Regions from separate parts of the Homo sapiens genome. Here all the other regions are linked to region 1. The links come from fine-mapping of genetic effects on gene expression. A gene starts in region 1. Each other region holds a variant in brackets. All regions are shown on one strand. Distances are from middle to middle. Region 1 holds the start of PELATON (plaque enriched lncRNA in atherosclerotic and inflammatory bowel macrophage regulation). Region 2 has its middle 10 kb from the start of LINC01270. Region 3 overlaps PELATON (plaque enriched lncRNA in atherosclerotic and inflammatory bowel macrophage regulation).

What was found.
Region 2: its variant is fine-mapped to the expression of PELATON in whole blood (TOPMed, PIP above 0.99).
Region 3: its variant is fine-mapped to the expression of PELATON in blood mononuclear cells (TOPMed, PIP above 0.99). The same link has a PIP of 0.9 or more in monocytes, monocytes after LPS and whole blood.

Annotation. Positions count from the first base shown.
Region 1 is chr20:50,264,932-50,269,047 of GRCh38, forward strand. It overlaps PELATON (plaque enriched lncRNA in atherosclerotic and inflammatory bowel macrophage regulation), which reads left to right and starts at 2,547. Exons shown (of 4, transcript NR_170992.1): 1 at 2,547-2,732.
Region 2 is chr20:50,280,517-50,284,632 of GRCh38, forward strand. No RefSeq gene overlaps it. Among named protein-coding and RNA genes, the nearest start is that of LINC01270, 10 kb to the right of the region's middle. The variant A/G (reference allele first, on the strand shown) is at 2,299.
Region 3 is chr20:50,274,481-50,278,596 of GRCh38, forward strand. PELATON (plaque enriched lncRNA in atherosclerotic and inflammatory bowel macrophage regulation) reads left to right here. Exons shown (of 4, transcript NR_170992.1): 2 at 1,171-1,255; 3 at 3,011-3,133; 4 at 3,697-4,116. Among named protein-coding and RNA genes, the nearest start is that of PELATON, 9.1 kb to the left of the region's middle. RefSeq lists enhancers at 146-647, 648-1,147, 2,992-3,529. The variant G/A (reference allele first, on the strand shown) is at 1,925.

The DNA of each region.
Region 1 (4,116 bases):
GGGGGCCGGATCCCCAGCGGGAGGAGGGATGAGGCCTGGGGGGCCTGGCTCTGGCACAATGCAGAGCATTGAGCTCATGCCAGCCTTGGCTTTGGGTTTGGACAAATACAGTAATCTGGGCAGGACTCACACAAAGACCTGGGGGCCAGGTCAGGCGAGGGGCGTCAGGTTACCCCTGTGGGCTGCAGCCACACAGGCGGCTTGGGGGGTGTATTTTTTTTCCCTAAAGATTATCATTAAATGAGCCCTCACCGAGGCCTCAGCAGGCAGGTTTCATTACAGGAAAAACTGAGGTATAGGGGTTTGCAGGCCTAACGGGACACGCTGTCACTGTGATAGGAACAGCATTAGCAATAATAACAGCTGTCCTTCCGGACTGGTTCCCAAGGGCTAGGCCCTAGGTGAATAATAAGCCTTTTCTCGATCCTTTCTGCAGCCCGAGAGGAAAGCCCCATGCTATCCCCATTTCATAGATGGGAAAACTGAGGCTTGAGGACACTTTGCGGCCTCCAAGGGCTGTTCTCTTCATTCCTCCAGCAGAGTGGATATGAGACGGTGCAGGGTCTGGAATGTCTGGGCAGAAGGAAGAGCTGGAGCAAAGGCCTGGAGGCTGGAGAGCGCTGTCGGGGGGCAAGTGGGGCAGTGTCCCACTGCGGGGTTTCATCTCAGCTCTGCCATGTCTTGGCTACGTGACCTCTGACACCCTACTGGGCCTCTTTGATCCCAGACTCACCTGTAGAATGGGTGTGTGAGAAGAAAACCTTCTGGAGCGGGGTGTTGAGGAGAGAACAGTGCCTGACACATCATAATAATAATGCTGAATAGATGTTATTTTCATTCCTAACCACTTCCTCCAGGAAGCCCATCCTGACCTCTAGCTCCCAAAGTCACCTGGACTTCCTCCATCACAGACCTTGCCACAGTGTGAGAAACTGCCTCATCCACACACCAGCTTCTCACCTCCACCCAGACCCTCTGATTGGGACTCCCCTGAAGACTGTGTCCCCAGAGCCCAGAAAGAGTCCAGCACAGAGCAGCTGAGGGGGCAGGTGCTGGTGAACAGTGTCAATGAGCCCCTGCTACTCACCAAGCCCTTCACACACGGGTCCTTCATTTAATGTCTTTCTTCTCCTAGATAGAACCTTGGCTTTGCCAAGACCGGTATAGTTGCTGCTCAAGAAATATGTGAGGAAATTGTTGAGATGAACCAGCACTCAGGGGAAGGGAGGCTTTCTGAGGCTGGGGCCTTAGCAGGTGGAGCTCCTGGGATAATAATAATAAGAAAGATGCCTGGACGCGGTGACTCACACCTGGAATCCCAGCAATTTGGGAGGCTAAGGCAGGCAGATCACTTCAGGCCAGGAGTTCAAGACCAGCCTGGTCAACATGGTGAAACCTGGTCTCTACTAAAAATACAAAAAATTAGCTGGGCCTGGTGGTGTGAGCCTATAGTCCTAGCTTCTCGGGAGGCTGAGGCTGGAGGGTCAATGATTGAACCTGGGAGGTGGAGCTTGTAGTGAGCCGAGATCGCGCCACTGCCACTGCACTCCAGGCTGGGCAACACAGTGAGACTCTGCCTCCAAAAAGAAAGACAACAATAATCATTAGTCTTTACTCTGCTCCAGGCACCAGGCTGAGTCTTCTCAGTTCATCTCCCCAGCAGATTAGTTCTATTATTGTTTCCATTTCACAGATGGGAAAATCAAGGCACAGGGAGGGGAGGTGGCTTACTCCAGGTCACACAGTTAGTGAGAGGCAGAGGCAGGATCAAAGCCAAGCCTGTTTGACTGAGGAGCCCGCCCCGAGACCTTAACCACACAACCCCTCCCTAGAAGGAAGGTGCCACTACTGGACACATTTTGGAGATGGAAACCAAGGCTAAGAGAGTCAGGATGGCCTGCCCATGTCTGGACACAGAAACTGAGGTTAAGCAGGAGATGCCCGAGGCGGGGTCCCTGTCTCCTAGGCCAGCACCCTGAAGAAGGGGTGGGAGACAACCCCCCACCCCCCAAGCTGTCCCCTGCTTGTTGGAGTTTCTGGTCAATACCCTGGCCTCTGTTACCCAGCCCAGCACCCAAGACGCTGCCTCTTCCGCCTGCCTGGAGTCTCGGGTGCCTTCACAATCGGATTCTCTGTCTCTGCAGCTGCTTTCCATTTGAGCCCTTTGTGCTGAAAATAAAAAAAATGAAAAGAAAACTTGGCACCACCCCTCTGCTTTGCTTCCTGGGGAGGAAGGAGGATCCCAGCTACTTCTTTCCCTCATTCTGGGGCCCAGAGATACCCACAGCCTGCCCGAGGTCACACAGCAGGGTTGGAGCCGGGACCCTGGCCTTAGACTCCCCTTCCAGTGCTCTACCCACTCTGGCCACTGCCTCTGATGTTCCTGGCTCTTCCTCTAGGCCCGTGAGGAGCAGAGAAATTAGGATGAATGTTCCCGAGCCCTACCACATGCTGGGCACTCTGCCATCCTGGGCTCACGAAACCCTCATGACAGCCCTGTGAGGTCCCGTCATCCCATTTAACCAACAAGGAAGCTGAGGCTCAGAGAGGGGAAGCGCCCAAGGTCACACAGCTGGGATGTGGCAGAGCTGGGGTTCCAGCTCCTGTTCCCATTGCTGGACAGCTGCCACATCTGGCACCCAATTTAGGACCCCGCGGGGAGGCCCAAGCCCCGGGGGTGGCGGGGGATCCTAGAGGAAAGTGGCAAGGCCAGGACCCTGGAGCAGAGCCAGGTAGGAACAATGGGTTCTCAGAGACCAAGGTGGCAGGGCGGGGCGGCTGCTGAGCAGGGGCGGCAGGGCGAGGTGGCGGGCGGGGCCCAGGAGACTTCATGCTCCCGCCTCCTACTCCAGCTCCCTGTTTGGGATCTGGGGACGCTCCAAGCACCTCAGCTTCTCAACCTGGACAGACCCACGGCTCCAGCAGGAGGCAGGGCCAGCCCTGTGTATAACCATAAATATAATGGGCAATAATCAGATTTCACGCTTACCGAGCCCTACTACAGGCCAGACACTGGGTCAAGGGTCCTTCCTGGGTCATCACAATCAGCCTAGGAGGTGCAATTAGGATTAGTGGCTTTTTACAGATGCGGAAACAGAGGTCCAGGGAGCTACTCAGCACCTGCTGTGCCAGGACAAAGAACTTTGGGAAGTGGGGCCCTCAGAGGGTGGGTACCCTGTTCCCAGAGGCAGGAAAGTTGAGGTGGACTGGACTCAGTGGGGCTCAGTGGGACACCGTGGGGAGTCAGTGCTCTCTGGGGGCGAGATGAATTAGAGGGAGCCCTTTTGGTTTTTTAGAATCTGAACATGGGGCGGGGGAAGCAGAGATGTGGGGAGCAGATGAAGCCTCCCTGGCACTGCTGGGAGGATTAAAGGACTTGATGGACACCCAGGGCTTGGAAATGTACCTGGTAGAGAGTAGGTGCTCAGGGAACAACTCCTGTTTGCAGAAACAGCAACTCACACTTAGGGAGCCTGCTGTGCATCTGAACCCCGTGCTTGGGTGTTTCTGACCCCCTTCCAGCTCTCATCCCTCCTCTCTCCATTTTCTCCCCTGTCTCAGGTTCATTCCTATGTTTCCTCTTGCCCCAATTAGGCCATCTTCTATGACTGCAACAGTAAAAATATTAATTAAATCTTATAACATGAAGTCTAACGTGGGGCCATTCCAGTGTTCCAGGGCAGGCTCCCTGCGCTCTAGGTAGGCATCTCTTCACTTCTCTTTCTTCATGGGCCCCAGTGCCTGCTGTGGCTCAAGACATCACGTCCCACATGATCACATCCTAACTAGGAAGAGATGAACAGAAAAGGGGACTTTCTCCTCCAGGATCTCACTTTTTTTTTTTTTTTTTTTTTTGAGACAGAGTCTTGCTCTGTTGCCCAGGCTGGAGTGCAATGGCACGATCTCGGCTTACTGCAACCTCCGCCTCCTGGGTTCAAGCGATTCTCCTACCTCAGCCTCCCACATAGCTGGGATTACAGGCGTGGGCCACCACTCCCAGCTAATTTTTTGTATTTTTAGTAGAGATGAATTTTCACCATGTTGGCCAGGCTGGTCTCAAACTCCTGACTTCAGGTGATCCACCCACCTCAGCCTCCCAAAAGTGCTAGGATTACA
Region 2 (4,116 bases), 16 kb after region 1:
ATGGGTCAGGGGTGCTGGCAAGGAGGGTCCAAGGCCCCCAGGAGGGAGGGAGGCATGGGAGATGAGTTTGTCCCTCTTGAGTTCTGTCTCTCTCTGTGTCTCTCTGTTTCTGCCTCTTTCTGTCTCCTTGTATTTCTCAGTCCCTGTCTTCGTCTATACCTCTTTCTCTCTTCCTTGTGTATCTGACCCACTGCCCAGGAGGGGATGCAGGCAGAGACCCCTGGCTTGGGTCCTGGAGTTGGGGCCCACGAGGGGATTGACATCTGGGGTTGAGCTGGGAATCTGAAGCCAGACCCTGCAGCCAGGGACAGCATTCCAGTCTCGGCTCCACACTCCAGGGATAGCCTTGGAACGCCAGGCAGTTCAGAGAGCCTGAGGTCTGGTCTTGGAGACCTGGGTTCCAATCCCAGCTTTGCCACATTCCAGCCATGTGGCCTTGGGCCCTTAGCCTTTGTTCCTGTAAAATGGGACCACTGAGAGCCCGATCTCAGGGTTTTATGAGGAGGAACGATGAGAGGGCTGTGCTGGGCTTCCTGAAGCCCTGTGTGGCCTGGAAAGCACTCAATAGATGATAACTCAGTGTAATGATTTCTTCTAGCAGATGGGGAAAGCGAGAGTTAAAGAGGCCCGATCATTTCACTCACTCATTCCTCAAACGTTATTAAGCACCTGCTATGCACCAGGTGCTTTGTTTTGTATCCATTAACTCAGGGTTCAGCAAACTACAGCCTCCAGGCCAAATCTGGTTCACAGCCTGTTTTTATAAATAAAGTTTTATTGGCACACAGTATGCCCATTCATTTACATATTGTCCACAGCTGCCTTTACCCTACAACTGCAATGTTGAGCAGTTGTGAGAGAGACCTTAAAACCCACAAAGCTGAACATATGAACTCTCTGGACATTTACAGTAAAGTTTGCTAATCCCTGGATTAGCCCATTACAACCCTGGAGGAAGGACATGTCATAAGCTTGATTTTATGGATTAGGAACTGAGGTCCGAGCGCAGTGTCTGCCACAAGGTTGGGTCTCCATACGTAATATCTGGGTCTTATTCCTCCTCTTCTGCCCCATGGGGAGCTGCCAACTCCTGTTCCCTTTCCCTATCCTGCATGGATCATAAGTGGATAATTTGAATCCCGCAGAGGAAGGAATGCTGTTTGAAGGTCAGGTCAATGGAAAGAGTCCTATTTTCAGGTCAATTTGGACCTTGCCAAAGCCTCTTCCTTCTGGTGACCTTAGCTGAGAGGTCTGCCACTAGCAGGTGCTTCATGAACAGTTGCTGAACAAGTGGTGTGCATCATGCTCCCGCTGTGAACTTCAGCTTGCTTGAAGGCGGATTCCTCCAGGTAATTGCAGGAGACCCCACGGCCGGCCACACACCACCGTTGGGATGAAAGATGGCCTCGAGCCATCGGTGGGAGAACACCCTGGGCAGGGAGATGCTTTCTAGAGCTCCACGGAAGTGGGGGAGGGGATCTCACTGCCCGCCAAGCATGCCCTGGAGTCTTTGTCCCTTCCTCCCTCATGCTGGAGGCCTGCAGGTACCTGGCTTGAGACGTTGCCTGGCCCTCAAAACACCCAGGTTCCCCCCAAGCTCCTCCCCAGCCTCCTCCCTGCTGACCTTGGGGAGCTCCCGGTTTGCCCTCAGCCCTTTTCTGGAGGCCCCAGAATCACCAAGAGGTAATCCTGCCTGCTGCCTGGAGGAGGCGATGTGGGAGACTCAGGAACCTGGGGTGTCCCCCAGCCAGGGGGCGGGCGTTGTGATCCGGCGCTGCTGAGCACTGCAGTGCCTTCCCTGATGGCCTTGTGTGCCGCTCCCTGACCCTCCCGTAGAGCAGCCTTCCCATACTGCTGGGTGACACTTGCGTAAATCATTTCACCTCTTGGCTCTGTAAAACGGGACTGGGGTGGTCCCTACCCCTTCAGGGTGTCGTGAGAATGAAAGGCATCAAGTGGGCAAAGCGCTTGGCATGGCCCTGAACCATGGTGGGCATTTGTCACACACGCTCATGGACTTATTCCTGGGTCCCTAGGATACCCTGGAGCTCCTCCCCAGGTTGGACCTGCTGCTAGCATGAGAGGGAAGAAGGGGGACACAGACACCAAAGACAGTTCTCGTCCTCATCTAAATGCTGGCGACTTCCAAGGGCACCTCCCCAAGGCCTCCCCTGAGCCTAGACTCAGGGGTCTCCACCCACCTGTCTCTGTCCCTGCTGGGATGACCAGGAGAAGCCTCAAACCCAGGTTGGCCAGGACTCCATTCCTGATCTGCCCCCCGAAGCCAGTCCTGCCTCT[A/G]CTGATGGCTCCTGCATCCTCCAGGTGGTCCCCCAAACCTGGGAGTCTCCCCTGCCTTCTTCTTCTCACTTGCTCCCACATCTGATCGCTCATCACATCCTGTCGACTCCACCTTCAAGGTAGACCCGGAGTCTGCCCTCGTCTCCCCACCTCCACGGCCCCCGCTTCGGCCACGGCCACCAGCACCACCGCCTGGACTGGTGCAGTCACTTCCTCCTGGCTTCCTTTTCTCCCTCAGCCCCTCACAGTCTGTTCTCCACACACGACCAGAGGGACCTGTCAGAAGGGACCTATACCTTCCAGCACAGACCCTCCCAGGGATCCCAGCTCTCTGAGTGAAAGCTCCCTGTGGCCCGTGAGGCCGGGTGCGACCCTGGCCCCCCAGCAAACCCTCCACTTGTCTGATGACCTCGCTGCCTCTCTCCCTCGCGTACTCCCTTCCAGCCCTGATAGCTTCCTGCTGTTCCTCAAGAAGCCCTGGGTCTTTCCACCTCAAGGTCTTTGCAGGTCCCTGGAGCCCTTGTCCACCATGGATGTCCACGGCTCCCTCACCTCCTTCAGGTCTGAGCTCGGATGCCACTCTCGACAGCCACCTTCTCTGACCCTTCCCCTGGCTTAAGTAGCCTCTGCCTGCTCGACAATCTCTCCCTCTACGCCCCTGACCATCCCGTGTTCTTTTTTCATAGGGGGAGGGGAAAGGCACTCCCAGGAGAGTGGACAGTGTGGGCCAGGGCCTGGACGTGTGGGCAGCAAGAGGGTGGGTGAGGGGAGAGTGGTGGAGCCTGGGTGGCTGAGCTTCAGGGGGAGGCATCCTCCAGGCAGGAGTGAGCAGGCCAGGGTCACCCTGACTCCGTCAGCCACTGGTTGTGTGACTTCAGGGAGCTCTCTCTGGACCCAAGAACCTGCAACTGCTGTTGGAGACCCACTAAGTGGACCTGTCATCTGACAGAGGGGGAAACTGAGTCTCCAAAGCTGCTGCTGTGACCTGCTGAAAGGGTCAGCCCAGGGATAGGGACAAACCAGGGGCTTCTAGCAGTCACTTGCACCTCAGTGTGAGTGAGCTCCCTGGATTCTTGGCTGTCTGGTAGCCCCTAGACCCCATGGGGCTTGGGAGGCAGAGTGATGGCAGGGCTGAGCCTGGGGTGGAGTCAGGGCTGTGTCAAGTCCCGGCCCAGCCTCTGTCCCGGCCCCTGGCTCCCTGCAGGGTGCTGGATTGCACAATCATACCACCCACAGCTGTGACCAAGGCAGGTGACACACGCTTTCTGGGAGCCACCCTTGGGCCGTGCAGCCTCGTCACACACACAGGGCCACCGATGGCATGGATGCACCCCGGCACATCCTGACTGCGAGGAGTGACTGCTCCTCACACTGCCACTTCCGGGCTGTGTGACTCTGGGCAAGTCACTTCCCCTCTCTGAGCCTCTTTTCCTCTTCTGTAAGAGGAGGTAATATAGTGCCTGCTCCCCTGGCTGTTGGAGGGATTGACTCTGCCCCCGCCATGCTGGCCCTCTGGCTGGTCCTCAAATGCACCGGGCATGCCCCACCCAGGGCCTCCACCTGCGCCCTTCCCTTTGCTTGGGCCGGCCCTTGCACCTCCTTCAAGTCTCTGCTCAAACGTCGCAGCTCATGAGGCCTTTCCTGCCCCTGACACTCCCTCCTTACTGAATTCCTCCCTGCATCTCTCAGTGCTACCTGACTCATCATGGTTCCTGCTTGTTTTGTCTACCCGCTCCTGGGTGGCAGCTCCATCTTTGTCTCTCTTGGTCATCACTGTGTCCCCAGATCCCAACAAAGCACCTCGTACAAGAAAGTGCT
Region 3 (4,116 bases), 9.5 kb after region 1:
GTGGGAGGATCGCTTGAGGCCGGGAGTTCCAGACCAGGCTGGGCAACAGAGTGAGAACCCATCTCTAGAGGGGAAAAAAAAAGAACTAGCTGAGTGTAGTGGTGCACGCCTGTAGTCCCAGTTACTTGAGAGGCTGAGGTGGGAGAATTGCTTGAGCCCAGGAGATTGAGGCTGAAGTGGGCTATGACTGTGCCACTCCACTCCAGCCTGGGCAACAGGGCAAGACCCCCCATCTGTCTTAAAAAAAAAAAAAGGAGAAAAAGAGAGAGAGAAAATACCCCATGGCCTTGGTTTCCTTATCTGTGAAATGGGGATGATGATGACAAGCCCCCAGAGGGCTTCCCCGCACCCTGGCAGTGACTGACACAGAGGCCCTGAGAGCTGCGTGTTCCAGAGTCATGCAGCTGGTACATGGCCGAGCTGGTGGGGTTTGAACCCTGGGTGCCTGAGTCAGGGAGAACAGGCGGAACAGTTGGGCCAGGGAGGGGAAGGTGCTGCCCAGAGCTCCCAGTGACCTTGGACCCCACTTCTCCTTTCTGCCCAGTGTGCTCGGCACACAGGAAGCCTGGCGGGGCCTCCCTTGCCCATCCTGTCTGCAGCCGGGTGGACACGGGGTCCCGGCGTCACCCACCGCCACCCAGGCCTCCTCCTTCCTGTGTTGTGCAAGACGAGGCGTCCCCTGTGTGGAATGGGCAGGCAGCTCTGGCGATGGGTGGACGGGTGAATGGGGGCCTCTCAGGCGGGGTCACTGCCCGCGGTTACCTCTAGCAGGCCTGGCCTAAGCCTCCGCCCCTTCCTCCTCCTTCTCCTCCTCCTCTGTTTCCCCAAAGTTCAGGCAGCCTTAAGCAAGAGGCTGTGGGACCCAGGAAACTGGGGAGGTTGTCCAGCCACCATCTTGTCCCCACAGAGCAGACCTAGGCTTGCGCAGTCTTGGAGAGGTCCTAAACAACAACAACAACAAAACTATAATAATAATGATAATAGCTGTTATAGTGGAGTGGCTTCTATGCACCAGGCATGCTCTCATTTAACCACAAATACATAAAACGCACCTCCTATGTGCCACGTGTGATTCTCAGACCTTTACCTCATGTCCCATCGAATCCCCGGCAACCCTTGTGAAACAGTTTTTTTTTTGTTTTTTTTTAATGATTCCTTTCTTCAGAGTAGAAAACTGAGGCTCTGAGAGATGAAGCTACTTGCCAAGGTCACGCAGCACAGTCACATCCTACTGAACATCATCCTGTTCTCTGGGGTGAGTGCTGTCCTGGAAGTTGGGGGGCTCAGAAGCTGTTGGTGCCCACCTGGGAGGTCGCCCTTGCAGCTGCTATCCTGAATCTCTTGCCCAAGGGCTTCCTCTGGCCACAAGAGTGTGGGAAGCAAGTGAGAGACCCCTGCCAGTAGAGGTGGGGTCTGTTTGTCCCCCCACTCAGCTTCCTTGCTTCTGGCTCAGGGGACAGTGGGAAGGTACTTTCTGCGAGTTGTCCCAGAGGCCTCTAGGGGGTTGGGCTCCTGTTGCCCACTGAGGAGACCTGCTCATCTACCTTCCTTGTGTCACTTCCTCACTCCTTCCCAGTGTTTCTAGAATCACCTCCCAAATATCCCACTTGCACCCAAAACCTTGTCTTGGGTCAGCTTCTGGGAGCCGACCTAAGCCAGCAGCTATAATGCTCAGGGCTTAAGAGCTTTGGAATCAGATGGACCTGAGTGTGAATCCCGCCCCTGCCACTTAACCTGAGTGTGAACTTGGGAGCCTGCCCCACCTCTCGGAACCTCAGTTCCTCCATCTATGAAAAGGGAACTTACGTGCAGAAAACCAAGTGACTATGAGGGGGATGGGGCAGTGTGAGATGACGGGACCAGAGCACGTTCCTGGCTGCAGAGGCCACAAGTCACGCTGTCTCTGAGAGGTATGGGGACAGGG[G/A]CGCAGAGGAAGAATGATCGCGAGTCCTCAGCCCTGTTTGGCTGACGGGGGACAGGGATGGGTGGGAAAGAGGTACAGCGTTTTTCCACCTTCCCCACCCATCACCCCTGAGATTCCAAATGAACATCGGGACCAACCCCGGGAGCCCAGCGGATGTTCAGGGTAGGGCAAAGAACAGGTGCCAAGTTTGCTCCCTGGGGTGTGAGACTGGGCAGCCTCAAGAGCTGCATTGGTAGGACTTTCACCAGGTAGACAGCAGGCACCTCGCCCCTGCAGATCACAGCTTCCAGGGCCACCTGTCCACAGAATCCCTTCACTGATCTGTGCTTGAGGCAGGGGTGTGTGGACTGGGAGTCCTTCTTTTACTCTGGGTGGGGCCTCATGCTCAGAGGGAGCTCTGTCTACCCCCACCACAAACCTGCAGTTTCCCTGCTACAGCGATGGCAACCTCAGCCACCTGGCTGCCCAGGCCCCCAACCTGGGTTCTCCCTCTTGTTCCCATGGTCAGCCCATCAGCAAACTCATCCACATGTCCAAGGGTCCACCCCCACTACCCTGCCCTGCCCTGGTCCAGCTAGGATGTTTGCAGTCGTCTCCTCATTGGTCTCCCTGCCTCCTCTCTCGCCTTCCTAAGCCAGAGGAATTCTGTAAGAGCTCAAGTTAGATCCTATCCCTTCTCTGCTCAGAACCCTCTATGGCTCCCAACTCACTCAGAGCAGAAGCCCACAGGGCCTGCAGGATCTCTGCCCTGGCCCCGCCTGACCTCACTGCCTCTCCCTTCTCTGTTCACCCACAGCCACGGTGGCCTCATCTCTCTGCCATAAACTTGCCAATTATCCTGCTGCTGCCTCATTGACTTCGCACCCACTCTTCCCTCTGGAACAGAGGACACTCTCGCCAGCTCTCCCCATGGCGGATCCTTGTCTAGGGTCAGGCCTCTGCTCCAAAGTCACCCCTGGGGACACCTTCTCTGACCAGCCCCTCATTCCTATGGCCTCATGCTGTTTTTATTTCTTCCTAGGACTTAGCACGTATCCTAGAAATTAACCTGCTGGTATATCCTGTTTCTTGTCTGTCTCTTTCCAGTGGAATGTCACCATCGCCCAGGTGGGGATTTTTGTGTGTTTTGTTCACTGCTGTACACCCAGCCCCCAGCACAGCGCCTGTCCAGGACAAGTGCCCAGTAAACACTTGGGAAGCAATGCAAGCGTGCGTGCATGGATAAGTATTTCTTTGGCAGATGAGGGGGCTAAGGTTCAGAGAAGGCCCTGGGGGTCTCAGACTCATAGCCCAGTGCTCTTTCTGCTGACACGCCCTGGTCTCTGGGGCAGTTTGTTGCCTGTTCAGCAACAAAGAGGGTGTGCCTCGTTAGGGGTCCTGCGTGCGAATCGCAGTCCCTGCGTGTCTTGGCTGGAGGTCACCACCCTCTCTGCTCCAGGGCCTGTAATTACCACTTACCCTGGTCAATGGGTCCGAGAGATTACCCTTGTAGGCAGGGCTGTGGCCAGGGTGCTCACCTGGCCCCCAGCAGGTCCCATGGGCACTGTCTGGCCGGGCTTCATGGCTGACATTCCAGGTACATTTCTAGCCCTGGGCTGCCATGGGCAGAGGGTGGGGAGAGGGTCGTGGGCTTCAGGCTGGACAAACCAGTCAGCCTTCCCAGCTGGGCCGCCTGACCACCCACTTCCTGTGGGGCTCCTTGAGGCCTGGAGGGTGGAGGGGGTCTCTGTTCAACCCCCACCCATGCCCTCTTCCCTTCTCTCCCTCGGCAGGTCCTCCCAGCAGCTCCTGCAAACAGACCCCCGACCCAAGCCCTTCCTTCTGCCTCCACTGCCACCACTGCTGCTCATCTCTGCTGGCACAGAAGTCTCTTCCCTGGTCTTCCAGAAATCCCCTCTCCACACTCAGCCAGAGGGAGCTATTAAAACTGTGGGCCAGCCCACATCAGTCCACAGCAAAGTCCTCTCTAAGGGATCTCTGTTGCTTGGAGAATAAACCCTCGGATTCCTTCCTTGGCTCTCGGGGCCTCCTCTCTGACCTCCCTCTGTCTCCTCTCCCAGCCTTCCTCCTCACTCACCCTCCAGCCATGCTGGCTTCCTCCTTGCTCCTGAAACAGCCTGAGGCCCACACTGCCCCGGGCCCTTTGCACTGGCTGTTTCCTCTGCCTGGAACACTTCTCCTAGGCATCCACA